Homo sapiens: one gene and its partners. The protein of the gene in region 4 purifies or fractionates together with the protein of the main gene of each other region. This does not show direct contact. Each region holds a gene or a part of one and is shown on either strand. Other genes may lie near its edges.

Evidence for each region. The genes of interacting proteins can lie anywhere in the genome.
Region 1: the proteins of ETFBKMT (region 4) and PREPL purify together in Homo sapiens (affinity purification with mass spectrometry; one large-scale study listed by BioGRID and IntAct). This does not show direct contact.
Region 2: the proteins of ETFBKMT (region 4) and CRAT purify together in Homo sapiens (affinity purification with mass spectrometry; one large-scale study listed by BioGRID and IntAct). This does not show direct contact.
Region 3: the proteins of ETFBKMT (region 4) and GLS purify together in Homo sapiens (affinity purification with mass spectrometry, with the first as the bait; one large-scale study listed by BioGRID). This does not show direct contact.

Annotation. Positions count from the first base shown.
Region 1 is NC_000002.12:44,320,301-44,323,494, forward strand, and holds part of PREPL (prolyl endopeptidase-like), read right to left. Parts: intron 3,112-3,194; coding exon 2,962-3,111; intron 2,555-2,961; coding exon 2,431-2,554; intron 2,138-2,430; exon of another isoform or gene 1,601-2,137; coding exon 1,527-1,600; exon of another isoform or gene 1,146-1,526; coding exon 1,056-1,145; 3' UTR 340-1,055; coding exon of another isoform or gene 1-339. Other genes in the region: amino acid transporter heavy chain SLC3A1, read left to right, coding at 1-339. UniProt on the Homo sapiens protein: Serine peptidase whose precise substrate specificity remains unclear. Does not cleave peptides after a arginine or lysine residue. Regulates trans-Golgi network morphology and sorting by regulating the membrane binding of the AP-1 complex.
Region 2 is NC_000009.12:129,097,544-129,100,793, forward strand, and holds part of CRAT (carnitine O-acetyltransferase), read right to left. Parts: intron 3,147-3,250; coding exon 2,968-3,146; intron 2,424-2,967; coding exon 2,323-2,423; intron 1,108-2,322; coding exon 988-1,107; intron 829-987; coding exon 706-828; intron 606-705; coding exon 470-605; intron 1-469. UniProt on the Homo sapiens protein: Catalyzes the reversible transfer of acyl groups from carnitine to coenzyme A (CoA) and regulates the acyl-CoA/CoA ratio. Also plays a crucial role in the transport of fatty acids for beta-oxidation.
Region 3 is NC_000002.12:190,883,821-190,887,320, reverse strand, and holds part of GLS (glutaminase kidney isoform, mitochondrial isoform 1 precursor), read right to left. Parts: intron 1-3,500. UniProt on the Homo sapiens protein: Catalyzes the first reaction in the primary pathway for the renal catabolism of glutamine. Plays a role in maintaining acid-base homeostasis. Regulates the levels of the neurotransmitter glutamate, the main excitatory neurotransmitter in the brain.
Region 4 is NC_000012.12:31,669,688-31,673,614, reverse strand, and holds the end of ETFBKMT (electron transfer flavoprotein beta subunit lysine methyltransferase), read right to left. Parts: 3' UTR 1,312-3,927; coding exon of another isoform or gene 1,238-1,311; 3' UTR 501-1,237; downstream 1-500. Other genes in the region: protein AMN1 homolog, read left to right, coding at 1,238-1,311. UniProt on the Homo sapiens protein: Protein-lysine methyltransferase that selectively trimethylates the flavoprotein ETFB in mitochondria. Thereby, may negatively regulate the function of ETFB in electron transfer from Acyl-CoA dehydrogenases to the main respiratory chain.

The DNA.
Region 1 (3,194 bases), on a different chromosome or scaffold from region 4:
AGGAATGACAGCCACTATGTTGTGTACACAAGAGAGCTGGATGGCATCGACAGAATCTTTATCGTGGTTCTGAATTTTGGAGAATCAACACTGTTAAATCTACATAATATGATTTCGGGCCTTCCCGCTAAAATGAGAATAAGGTTAAGTACCAATTCTGCCGACAAAGGCAGTAAAGTTGATACAAGTGGCATTTTTCTGGACAAGGGAGAGGGACTCATCTTTGAACACAACACGAAGAATCTCCTTCATCGCCAAACAGCTTTCAGAGATAGATGCTTTGTTTCCAATCGAGCATGCTATTCCAGTGTACTGAACATACTGTATACCTCGTGTTAGGCACCTTTATGAAGAGATGAAGACACTGGCATTTCAGTGGGATTGTAAGCATTTGTAATAGCTTCATGTACAGCATGCTGCTTGGTGAACAATCATTAATTCTTCGATATTTCTGTAGCTTGAATGTAACTGCTTTAAGAAAGGTTCTCAAATGTTTTGAAAAAAATAAAATGTTTAAAAGTAAATTATGGCTTATAGGAGCTTATAACTTTATTCAGATAGCATCAATCAGGGATGACCAGAACACATTAGGACCCCAGATTATTCAAAAACTTTAACGAATTTTAAGGGGAAGAATTTTATCTTTTCCCTTAAAATGCAGTCATAGAAATTAGAGGATGACTCACTGCCACAGTGTCTAAAAGCATTTGCTAGCAAAGAGGCAGGACACTAATTTGTAAACTGCTCAACTGTTCTGACTGGAAGGGAGGCCTGGAGCTCTGCTATCACCAATCCTTCCCTTCCCTCTACTCCACATCCTTCTAAGGAGCATGATTTGAAAATTACTTTCCTAGGTTAATGGGCATGTGCATCAATGGAGAGAATAGTATAAGCAAGTGAGATGTAGACTAAGCAAAATTTAGATGGAGAAGCACATTTTAAAAAATTAATAACTTAAAAGTCTCAAGTTATTAATTTTTTTTTTGCTAACTCAATTGGAAGTAAGACTATGAAATATTTCAGTGTGTTTCCAATTCCCAGTTGAATGCAGTGTTTCAGAATTTCAGGTATTTCTTAAGATCCTCGAAAACACTGGTGCTGTCAAGTCCAAGTTCCTCGTACAGGAATTTAATTTGGGCTGTAATCTAAAAGAAACACATTAAAAAAATTAAATAGAAGGCCTTTGTAGTAAAATGCCACTGTTTAAGCTTCTCTTTATCTATCCATCTTTACCTAACCGTGAAGTCAGCAATTTATGGCAAGAATACTTTCATTCGAGAGAGAGGCAGAAGGCTTCCAACAATTAAGATTAAATTATTTTCTTTAACAGAGCTCACGTATCAAGTACAAGAGAGAGACATTTCTCTTGATTGACACAGTGTCCCTCCCTCCCCTCCTGGGTCTCACCCATAGATAGGACATTTGTGAAGTGGCTTTGTCATAAACCTGCTGCAACCACTGAAAATGTGAAAACAACATGTATCTAGTTCGGGAATCTGTCCACTGAGAGGGCCTTGATAACATACCTTTTTGTGAGAATCCTCAATTACATGATTGCCTCCAGGCTGAATATCTAGAATAATATTAGGGGTCTGATAGCCTGGAAGAGTTAACATGTAGAACAATTAGAAGATTGTATGGGATCTTCTTTGGAAGATCGAGACCCATTCCTCCCCTCTTCTTTGAGTACTCAGTTCAAATAATAGTAAAGGAATAAAAAGCAAAAACCACCATCATCAACAAAAAGATGGGAGGGGACAAGCAACAGAAGACAAACTTCTGACACAGCGAAAGCAGGAAGAGGCCGTATGGAAAAGACTATATGGTGCCACACGGACAAGGTTGAAACCCAGGAGATCATCAACCTGCCCTGTGGAATCTGAGAGTCTTATGCCCTGGAAACACCAACTACAGCAATGGATGGGGGTGACAAATGGAGATGAATACAGGGAGACTGATATGGCATGTAGTTTCAAGGCAAAAGGGAGGGATTCTTATCTCATAAAGCTGAAACAGCTAGCTAGAGGAAATTCATGCAGCTAAACAGTTTGGGCACTGATGGCCCAAAACAAAAATCTCAGAATCTGTCTTTTAGAGATTCCCAAGAATAACGGCTCAATAAATATTGTTAAATGAATTAATAATTGTATGGCAGTGCATCTCCAAGTTATATCTGATTCTTAAATTTCCTGTTTCCTTTGTGTCCTGCCTATCTATTTTAATACTGTCCTTTGAAAAAGAGGTGAGGCAGTGTATGTATAGACATGTAGTTACGTACACTTTAACTGGGGAGTCAACATAGCAAAATAATTGTTTGCCCTAAATCCTGGGCAGATGATTTGGCTACAGCCTGAAATATATTCCTCTGAGCAGTGTGCTGTGGGTAGTAGTCTGTTTGGCCATGTTCCCTGCTTCTAGGGGGTCTCCTACCTTCACCTGTGTCCTTAGCATGCTCCGCGATGGCTTCCTTGAGTTTCTCAGTATAACTTACAATTCCTTTCAGAGGTACCCGTTCATCGTTTTCATATGCCGTTATGTGAATTGAAGGATAATGCTGAAAGAAAATACATGCACGAAGAGTTTACATTATTTCTTATGGTCCCTTGCCACTATAGAGACTATGAAAAATAATTACCTCCAATTTTTCCCTGTAAGTGCTCTATGCTTTTTCTCACTTGCTATCTTGAGAGCGCCTCAGTATTACAGTAGTAGACTACTTGTTATCTGGAATAGCCTTTTCTTGACTAAAGGACCTTAGCTAATTTAGTAATTAAGGCATGATAAGTCTATTCCCCTGAGGTATTAAACATGGAGCATGAGCAGAGATGGTGCTGAAGATATTTGGGCATCATAAGTAGAAACATCTCTAAAGCTCCTATTTTTGCTTCAGCTTGGATAAGTTTTTTTTTTATTATCTTCTGTGTAAATTCAGGATAATCTAACACAATTGTCTTTCACTACCTGAGGTTTAATATTTTGATAGGGACAGTAACGTTTTATGTAGTTCTTGTGTTTTTCATCAGATGAAGGATTCCCCCATTCTTCTAATTCTTCTAATGTCAGAGGAAGTGTAGTGTCCATCATGGTGTTGAGAACATCCAAGAAAGGTGCCTAAAAAAAAGGCAAAGAAACTTATACTTCAAGTAAGAGGTTGGTAAGTGAGTTTCAGAAAAACATTCTATTTTATGAATATA
Region 2 (3,250 bases), on a different chromosome or scaffold from region 4:
ACTAAAAATACAAAAATTAGCCGGGCATGGTGGCAGGCACCTGTAGTCCCAGCTACTTGGGAGGCTGAGGCAGGAGGATTGCTTGAACCCGGGAGGTGGAGGTTGCAGTGAGTCGAGATCACACCACTGCACTCCAGCCTGGGCAACAGAGTGAGACTCTTTCTAAAAAAAAACAAGAAAAAAAAAGAGCGAGTATTGCAACTACCAACTCCTTGGTCCTCAGCCAGGGCCTGACATAGGGCAGTTGCTTACTGCCAATGAATAAATGAATGAACAAATGAATGACTCCCTTTTCCTCTTTGGTCCCCAGGAAGCTCAGAGCTAGATTCACGGCTCCAGCTTCTGTTAGATTCCCCGTGCCCACCATGGGGCTGGAATCCTGTAGGTGCTCAATTATTGTGTGTTGACTGAGTGAGCAGGAGGGAGGGGCTCAGGCCCAGCTCACCCACCCTCGCCCCAGACCTCTCACCGTGACGCTGGAGTCATCCATGGCCTTGACAAAGGTGAGTGAGTCCATGGAAGCCGAGCGGATGGTGTCGGTGCGGCCCAGGTGAAACATGCGCAGGGAGGCACTTTCATAGGTGGCACATGCCTGTCCGTAGATCCTGGTGGGAAATGGGGCTAAGCACGCCCCTTGGAGGCGGGCACCCCCTCCCCTGCCCCCAGGTCTCCTCCCTCCTCCATGGGTGGGCCACAGAGGCGCACCTGTAGTAGGCCAGCTGCAAAGCCATCTGGATGAAGGCATCTGGGCTTAGCTTCTCCGACTTGGGGAAGTCTTTTCCAAAATGGTGGAACACCATCACGGTGATATCCAGGTCCTGGATCATGCTGGGGGTGTGGGAAGAGCAGGTGAGGAGCAGGCCCCGGCAGCCCCTGCCAACCCCACGGAGGGTCTGGGTGTCATGACAGAGCTGGCACAGGAGCCTCTCAAGCTCAAGGGCCTGGCCTCACCCATCCAGCACAGGGATGGCGGGGGCAGGCACTTACATGCTGAGGTTCTGCTTGGCCTTCTCGATGTCGCTCTTGATCTCGGGGGTGATGTTGAACCGCAGCTTCTTGGGCATGGGCAGGGGCACCAGGGGAGACCGCACAAGCTCGGGTTTCTTCCTGCACAGTAAACGGGGCCTCAGGCTCATGCTGGTGCCTCTAGAGCCTGGGTCCATTCTGGGACCAGGGTGGGGAGGATGGGTACCTGAAGCTGGAGGGGGCCAGCCCAGGGAGGTGTGAGTTTGTTCTGAAAACCACCCTCACTTCAGCTTTTTTTTCTTTTTTCTTTTTTTTTTTTTTTTAGATGGAGTCTTGCTCTGTTGCCCAGGCTGGAGTGCAGTGATGTGATCTCAGCTCACTGCAACCTTGGCCTCCCTGGTTCAAGCGATTCTCCTGCCTCAGCCTCCTGAGTAGCTGGGATTACAGATGCCCGCCACCTTGGCTAATTTTTTTCTTTTTCTTTTGAGACAGAGTCTTGCTCTGTCACCCAGGCTGGAGCAATGGAACGATCTCGGCTCACTGCAACCTCCACCTCCTGGGTTCAAGTGATTCTTGTGCCTTAGCCTCTTGAGTAGCTGGGATTACAGGCACCCACCACCACGCGTGGCTAACTTTTTTTTTTTTTTTTTTGAAACAGAGTCTCATTCTGTCACCCAGGCTAGAGTGCAATGGTGTGATCTCAGCTCACTGCAACCTCTGCCTCCCGGGTTCAAGCGATTCTCCTGCCTCAGCCTCCCAAGTAGCTGGGATTACAGGCACCCGCCATCATGCCTGGCTAATTTTTGTAGAGACAGGGTTTCACCATGTTGGCCAGGCTGGTCTTGAACTCCTGACCTCAGGTGATCCGCCTCCCAAAGTGCTGGGATTATAGGCATGAGCCACTGCACCTGGCCTAATTTTTTTTTTTTTTTTTTGAGACAGAGTCTTGCTCTGTCACCCAGGCTGGAGTGCAGTGGCACAGTCTCCGCTCAACGCAACCTCTGCCTCCTGGGTTCAAGCAATTCTCCTGCCTCAGCCTCCTGAGTAACTGGGATTATAGGCATGTGATACCACACCTGGGTAATTTTTTTTTTTTTTGTATTTTTAGTAGAGATGGCATTTCACCATGTTGGCCAGGCTGATCTCAAACTCCTGACCTCAATTGATCCTCCCACCTCAGCCTCCCAAAGTGTCAGGATTACAGGCGTGAGCCACCATATCTGGCTGGCTTCCTTGGAAAAAAACAGATTCCCAGGCACAAAGGAGAGTGATATTTCTCTATAAGCTGGTCTATCACCTGTGTGTCACCTGTCACTAGAAGCTGGGGAACTAGGCGAGAGATGTGACTGTACTCACGTGTACTCGATGACATAGTCCAGAAGGGTGACAATAGGGGGCCCCTCCGCTGCAGCATGCTCGTACACAAGCCCACAGGAGCCATCTTCTGCCACGATGAACTGTGGAAGGGAAGGGAGACCCCGGTCAGCCCCAGGGCCCTGGGGGGTGGCCCCTCACCCAACCACTCTTTGGTTGAGGCAAGGGCCTCTCTGAAGCCATCTCAAGGGGCTATGATGACTTATTACTGTTATTAACAATAGCTGACACTCACCAGGTGCCCTGGTGTGCTAAGCACATCCCACGCTCAGCGTGCCTGACTGAGTCCTTCAAACTACTCTACCGGTGAGGTTGACCATCACCCCATTTTACAGGTGTGGAGAGGGACTGTTGTGCCAGGATTGCACTGGTGACCCCGGATCCCAGGTTCTCTGTGAGGTGCTGAGGGGGTGTGCTGGGGGTGACAGCGGTTTCCAGGCCAGAGGCAGGACTGGTGATGACAGGCTGGCTGCCTGGTAATTACGGCAGCGTCCAGCCTGCTGGCTTCCTGCCTGCTTTACAAGCTAGGAGGCTGGGGACGCAGGGCCGGGGACGGGCAGGAAGTCCCGAGGCTGCAGAGGTCCTGTTCAGGTGTGTGTGAGTGGGCGAAGCCCTGCCGGGCCTCACCTGCAGCGTCTTGTCGAACCAGCGGTTGCCGCTGTTGAGCCTGCTGCCGCCCCCATGCAGCATCTGGCCTGCCACGTGGCTGCGGTACACGTCTTCTGAGACCCTGGGCATGGTTGCATCTAGGCACACGGTGAAGATGCTCTTCTGGATGGAGCGCACGGAATCCCGGTTCACCTTGTCTGCAGGTGGCATGGGGCGGGGAGACGCAAAATGGGGTCTCATGGTGTGGGAGAGATGGACCAGCCCCTCCGCAGCCTCCTGCCCTGGGCTCTTCTGACCCATT
Region 3 (3,500 bases), on a different chromosome or scaffold from region 4:
ACTAAGTGCAGTGATGACTCACAAGTAATGTGTTTCATAACCAAAGCAATTTTGCACCTGAGTAGATTTCAGGGTAAAACTGTACTAACAGTATCTCTATGTGAAAGCTATGTACCTCACTGAGAGATATCAGTAATTAATAACTATTTTTATAAATACATCTGTTTACTCACCTTTCTTAAGCATTTCTCTTACTAGCAAATGACTTAAAGGTGAAAAGGCACAGACAGGCAACTATAAAATATAACCTTAATTTATATAGGATTTAACATGATTGAGCTCCCTCACACAAATTCTATAATTAGGCTTTCAGCTTATATGGTCATAATTTTTCTTCATTTCAAATATCACAAGAAGGAAGTAGTACAGCCTTTTACTATTACTTTCTTTTTTTTTTTTTTTTTGAGACAAGAGTCTCGCTCTGTCACCCAGGCTGGAGTGCAGCGGCATGATCTCGGCTCACTGCAACCTCCACCTCCTGGGTTCAAGCGATTCTCCTGCCTCAGCCTCCCGAGTAGCTGGGATTACAGGTGCCCGCCACCACTCCTGGCTAATTTTTGTATTTTTAGTAGAGACAGTGTTTCACCATGTTGGCCAGGCTGGTCTCAAGCTCCTGACCTCAACTGATCCACCTGCTTTGGCCTCCCAAAGTGCTGGGATTACGGGCATGAGCCACCACGCCCAGCCTGATTTCTTTTAAATAACTTTTTAAAACTCAAAGAAACCCACAAATATCTTCAGCAAATTTCTTTCAAAGTGACATTTATCTTTGGACTAAAATAGTGCCCCCCCTCCCTTTTAGCTGGCCTACATATTGCCTCATAAAAAAGGCTGAATTCTATTTGGTAGTCATTTCATGGATTAGCTGACTTTGAGGTAGGTAGACTTCTCTATAAAAGAGTAAGGTCTGGAAATATGCAGCTAAAAGTCCAGGAGACTAAACCCCTCAGAATCTAATTCTTGTTCTTTCAGTGAATTTCATCCAAATATTAATAAAACTATAAATTAACAGCATGAGTTTGTTAATTACAGATCATGGACAAAGTTATCAATGACTGATGCACATTTCAATATAAATATTAGGTCACAAAAATGTTATGACATATAGTTATTGGTACCTTTTTCACTTGCTTTTAAAAAAACAAAACTGGGCTGGGTGCAGTGGCTCACGCCTGTAATCCCAGCAATTTGGGAGGCCGAAGCAGGCGTATCACAAGGTCAGGAGGTCGAGACCATCCTGGCTGACATGGTAAATTCCCATCTTACTAAAAATACAAAAATTAGCCAGGTGTGGTGGCACGTGCCTGTAAGTCCCAGCTACATGGGGGGCTGAGGCAGGAGAACGACTTGAACCCAGGAGGCAGAGGTTGCATTGAGCTGAGATCACACCACTGCACTCCAACCTGGGTGACAGAGTGAGACTCCACCTCAAAAATAAATAAATAAATAAAAATAAAATTTAAAAAAAAAAACTAAAACTCACTGATAATCATCACCTAGAAAAAAATTTTTAATAATGAAGAAATCAAAAATAACTAAGGGGCTGCCTGAGAAGCCCAAAGGAAAAAATTAAACATACTTTCCACCTTGATTTTAGCTTAAGTGAATTGTAAATATGTTAGCTTTTAAAATTAAAACCAAATGCAATACTGAAGGATCATAAAAACATGTGCCCCCATTTTAACAGAGGTTTTGTCATTCAGTTCTAAAACTTAATATTTATATCTGCCAAATACTAACTCAACTTCCTTACTAGTATTGTTCAATCTACCCAATTCAATGTTCGCTGAAATTCATAAGCATTTCATCTTACTTTGAAATTCAATGTTCAGACCAGGTGCGGTGGCTCACGCCTGTAATCCCAGCACTTTGGGTGGCCACAGCGGGCAGATCATCTGAGGTCAGGAGTTCAAGACCAGCCCAGCCAACATGGTGAAACCCCATCTCTACTAAAAACAAAAATTAGCCACGCATGGTGGCGGGTGCCTGTAATCCCAGCTACTCGGGAGGCTGAGGCAGGAGAATGGCTTGAACCCGGGAGGCAGAGGTTGCAGTGAACCGAGATCACACCACTGCACTCCAGCCTGTGTGACAGAGCGAGACTCCATCTCAAAAAAAAAAAATTCAATTTTCAGAGTATACACCTCGATGATTTTCTTTGCCCTTCATTGTCCATAACTATCAAAACATAAAGCTGAACTATCAAAACATAAATCCATACTAACTAAAGCTAGCTGAAATCATTTTTGCTTGCATTTTTACTTTTAAATATAAATATATTTTAAAGCATGCTTATTTGTGTAATTACAAATATTTCTGAATGCCACGACTTCATGTAGATATGCAAACATCCAACTACCACATCACAGCTATGCAGTTTTTAACAGAAACTACCAAACTGCCTAAAGTAACTGAACTAATAATTTATACTTCTACTAGCAATGCTAGAGTTCCTATTTTCCCAATTACTTGATTTAACATCTGCCAATCTGAGAAGGGGAAAGTGACCTCATTGTTGTTTTAACAGAATACTTTCAATATTGCATCCTGTATGAATTATCTATTTTCTAACAACATACATATGCTGGTATTTTTCCAGCCCAATTTCTGTTATGTATCTCTTTTCCTTTCTCATTAAAAAATAAATGTCCAAATAAAAAAACTTAATAATGCCCCTTACCTCTATCCCTCTGACTCTTCCTAGGGACCATTCACTAAGATAGGATACATACTTCTGGACTTTATGGAAATAAGTATAACCAGCTTAACAGAGAAAAGTATGATAAAAATGTCCATATGGGCAAGTGCTGGCATAAACCATAACATAGTTTGTGACTTTAATATAATGCTCATTCCAGATCCTGCTGGTTTTCTGGAAGAGAGTGCTATTTTCAAATTAAAACTCTAAAATTACTCTCATAACAGTACGCAAAATAGGTTGAATTGGAGAAAAGAATGAATATCAGGGTACAGACTTAAAATTTGAAGTCATTGAATATGTGGCGACAAATTTAAGAACAGAGCTTTGGATTAAGAGGTGAAGTATTACCTACACAAAGATGAGAGTCAAAGCTGAAAGAAGGGATACGCTGTTGAGAAGGCAGACAAGTGGGAAAGGGACAAAGGCCTCAGCCTCAGGGTTTTTACCCAGTGAGGAAATTCAAAAAGAACTAGGAAAGAAGAGAGAACAATTTTGAAAACGAAGAGAGGCAAGCAAAGTTGGTTTTCAAGATAACAGAATGAACCATAACAAAATTAAATAAGATCACTAAAGACAAAACTGAGCAAAGATCATTAAATTTTTCTATGTGATATTAAGACGTTCGTATCCTAAACCACACTAAAGTTGCGTGATGGAAACAGCATAGTCTAAAGTGACATTAGTTCAAAGAGTTTGTGAAAAAAAGGTAAAGTAACTTGCTTATATCACGCCTCCTTCCAGAATATAAAGTAAATAAAATATAAACTCAGGACCAAGGAAAGGAGGAAACGCAGATATC
Region 4 (3,927 bases):
GTTGGAAAGTGTTTCCCCCTTCTTCTATAGCCACCCAGCTTTGTCATGGTTGCCATTTAAATGGTATGTCTTTGTCCATTCTTTTACTTTCAACATAATTTGAATCTATCTTTGATTGAGATTTCCTCTACAATAACCAATAATATTTTTATGACCATGAATAAAACTGCATTTATCTTACTAGCTGCTTTTTTAAAAAATTGTAAACCTTTGTTTTCCCAATGATAATAACTTTTCATTTCTATACACTCTCTGGTTCTCTTGCTGGCAATAAACCTTGGTATTTTTGCTTAATTTTGTTAAACTTAAAATAAAATTTTGTCACTGTATATGTTGGGCCCATCTTTTTTTTTTTTTCTACTGGTCTGTGAAATCTGTCTAGGAACCACCAAATTACAGGATTTCCAAGACTAGGTTAGAGATATGTTGTACATAAAACATAGGTTGTATCTATGGAAACAAGTTTATTAAACTTATGAGTAATATTTAAACTAACAAAATTTTATCAGTATTTTTGCTTTAATTCAGATTTTTAAAAGACATCCTAAAACTAGGATGGAAACCATATCAAAATCACGACTGTACATTGTGAAAAACTGAAAACATCTAAATGTCCAATAATATAGATTGGTTAAATTACAGTGTATTTATATAATGGTTATCTATTTAAAATCATGCTTTATAGTAGTATTATACAGACATGGAAAAATGTTCAGCTACAGGTCAACTTGTCACGTTCGGTGACTACTACCTCCTTTAACCCTTTGGGTGTGTTGCAGCTTCCCAAGGTGGTTTACCGTACCTATTGGCTTTCTTTAATCCTACTTTTTTGGTAAATATTCCCTTCATTAAATGCTGTTCAGTCACCCCACTTTAGTGAATCATCTATTTCCGGCTAAGATCCTGAAAAAAGTTATTAACCATTAACACAGGTTAATGGTGAAATTAGACCATTACTCTGGTTGGTGGAATTATGATGAAATTACAGAGAAAACAACAAATGCCTGTTTTTTTTTTTTAAACAAGTAATACCATGATAGGTGCACTACACCTAATAATAGTGAGGGCTACCATTAATTAATTATTAGTGAGTTAGTTGTATATTGTGCTTTATAGATCACCTCCTTTAATCCTTTAAATAACTGTATAATAATTAACATCACCTCCAGTTAGACATGAGGAAACATTAAACATTTTTTATTGTCAATTAATATATTGTCATTGTTTTCTTTTATAGATCATTCCCGAGAAGTGTTGGAGCAATTAGTAGGCCCAAACAAACTAAAGCAAGTGACATGGACTGTTTATTGATGCTTTTTTGAAGATGATCAATGCTAGGAAAGCTTATCAAAACTACTTTCCCAGGAAACCATCTATAGAGATTTGCATTCTACTTAATGTTAACACTATTTTTAATTATTTTATTGTCTTAAGTTATAACTCTCAGAGAATTAGCTAAGTCTTGGTATATACATGGTTTGTGCTTTACTCTTAAACATCTTTAAAGTGCTATTATTCTATATCTGTTGGATGAGTCATTATTTTTGAAATGATAATCCTAGCATGAACTCTGATCTATGGTGTTGGATTCTGTTTCTTAAATAACTTTAAAATTAACTGTTTTCCCTTGAGATTTCCTTCTCCTATGTAGGTATTTGAGCTATTGTTCTAAGTTTACCTGTAAGTATAAACCTTGGGAGAATCTAAGTAAACATATTTCTAAAAGCATAGTTACCTTCCTATTTTCTGGCTCTTACCTTCTTGGAGTATTTAAATGCCCATTTGCCAAAAGCAGACCTGAACATCAAGCCTGTTAATTCTTCAAAGAATTTAGGTATTTGTTTCACCGAAATGAAGTGACTTATTAGCCATTCAGCGTATTAGTATTACAGAGGCTCTTGCCCAGCCACATCCATTCATTGATTTTTATGGCTACTCTTCCCAGTTACATTTTATGCATCTGTAAGCTTTCCTTCCTTAGCAAAATTGCATTCAAAAATGTGTAAAAATGAGTAAATACAGAATATCACTACAGAGACTTGTATCCTCAGGTTTATTGATTTCACATTGTGAAATAAACAGCAAAGGTCTTAGTTTTCAAGTGAAAACTTTTTGGTAATCACAAAATTACCTGACACATACCACGCTTAAACCAACCCCCAAATTTAGCATATTCATTTTGCCATGAGCCAGTCTTGAGATTTTCTTAAAAGATTTCTTATTTTGCCTCTGATGTAGTGAAAAACGGGGTAAGTATGCTAACTTTCTTGTATATGTTGGGGGGTACTTATTCAACTCCATTTCTTGTCCTTACAAGATTTATAAATGTGGTATGTTTATAGTGTGGATATATATGTTGCCACTGCAAAGGTGGTGCATATGTATATATGTGCAAAATGGGTAAGGCCTGTTCTAACTATGAAATTTTTCTAAAGACAAATTCAATAAAATTTAATACTGAATATTTAACCAAGTCAATCACATTTTCCCCTTTTTGCAGAAACTAGTTTCGACATCTAAATTGTGAGCTTCTTTGGGTCTATGAAGGATTTATCTTCCTAAAACAGTTTGCAGTTTGATATTTCTCCTTTTTTATGTTGCTAGCTGTATTAACTATTTCTCACCACTCTGTTTAAAATATCTGTACCCCATCCAGTACCCAGTATTCCCTATTACCCTTACTTCTTTTTCTCCTTACTACCTATCACCATCTGATGCCTGTTTTCATTTGTTCATTATGTCTCCCTACTCTAGAATACAAATTTCATAAGGACAAAGTATTTATCTTTTTTTTTCATTGCTGTATCCCCATATCCCCAGTGCCTAGAACAGTGCCTGGTATATAATAAGCACTCAAATATTCATTGAATAAGTAAATATGGAAAGAAATAAAGGAGGAAAGAAAGAAATACCCAGTAATACCCAGCCTGGCCAATGTAGCAAGACTCCATGTCTACAAAAAATACAAAATAAAAAAACTAGCCAGGCATCATGGTGGTGCATGCCTACAGTCCTAGCTACTAAGGAGGCTGAAGTGGGAGGATTACCTGAGCCTAGAAAGTCGAGGCTGCAGTGAGCACGGTCGCATTGCTGAACTCCAGCCTGGATGAGAGAGCAAGACCTGTCTAAAAACAAACAAAACAAAACACCCAACAACAACAACAAAAATTTCCAGTCTCTAGTCTGATTTATATTTTCTAATATAAAGAGATTGGAAGTCATCATTCCCATCCTCACAATAAGAAAAAAGCTCAATAAACTGAAAAGTCAACAACACTTAGATCCATTAGAGAATTAAGGTTAAAGAGAGAATGCCTCACAAATTAGAAACGCAAATACAAAGAACCATAGCTTACAGGGAGCAGAAGCCTGTTGCTGGAGCCAGTACCAATAGGAACATTTATGCTGTAATTCCTGAGTTGCTGGAGGCTCCATGTGGATGGACTTAAGAATCAAAAGCTCCAGCCTGGCACAGTGGCTCACACGTGTAATCCCAGCACTTGGGGAGGCTGAGGCAGGTGGATCACCTGAGGTCAGGAGTTCGAGACCAGCCTGGCCAACATGGCGAAGCCCTGTCTTTACTAAAAATACAAAAATTAGCTGGGCATGGTGGTGCATGCCTGTAATCCCAGCTGGGTTTGGTGGTGTATACCTGTAATCCCAGCTACTCAGGAGGCTGAGGCAGGAGAATCACTTTAACCCAGGAGGTGGAGGTTGCAGTGAGCCAAGATCACGCCATTGCACTCCAGCCTGGGCAATAAGAGTGAAACTCTGCCTCAAAAAAAAAAAAAAAAGAATCAAAAGCTCTAGGAATCTGTCCATAAACGTTATCTAACCAGGTGTGGCAACCCTGCAGTCACTCTGAACCTATTCTGCTTTTGGGAGCTGCCCAATTCACAGATTGTTCTTTGCTCAATTAAACTTTGT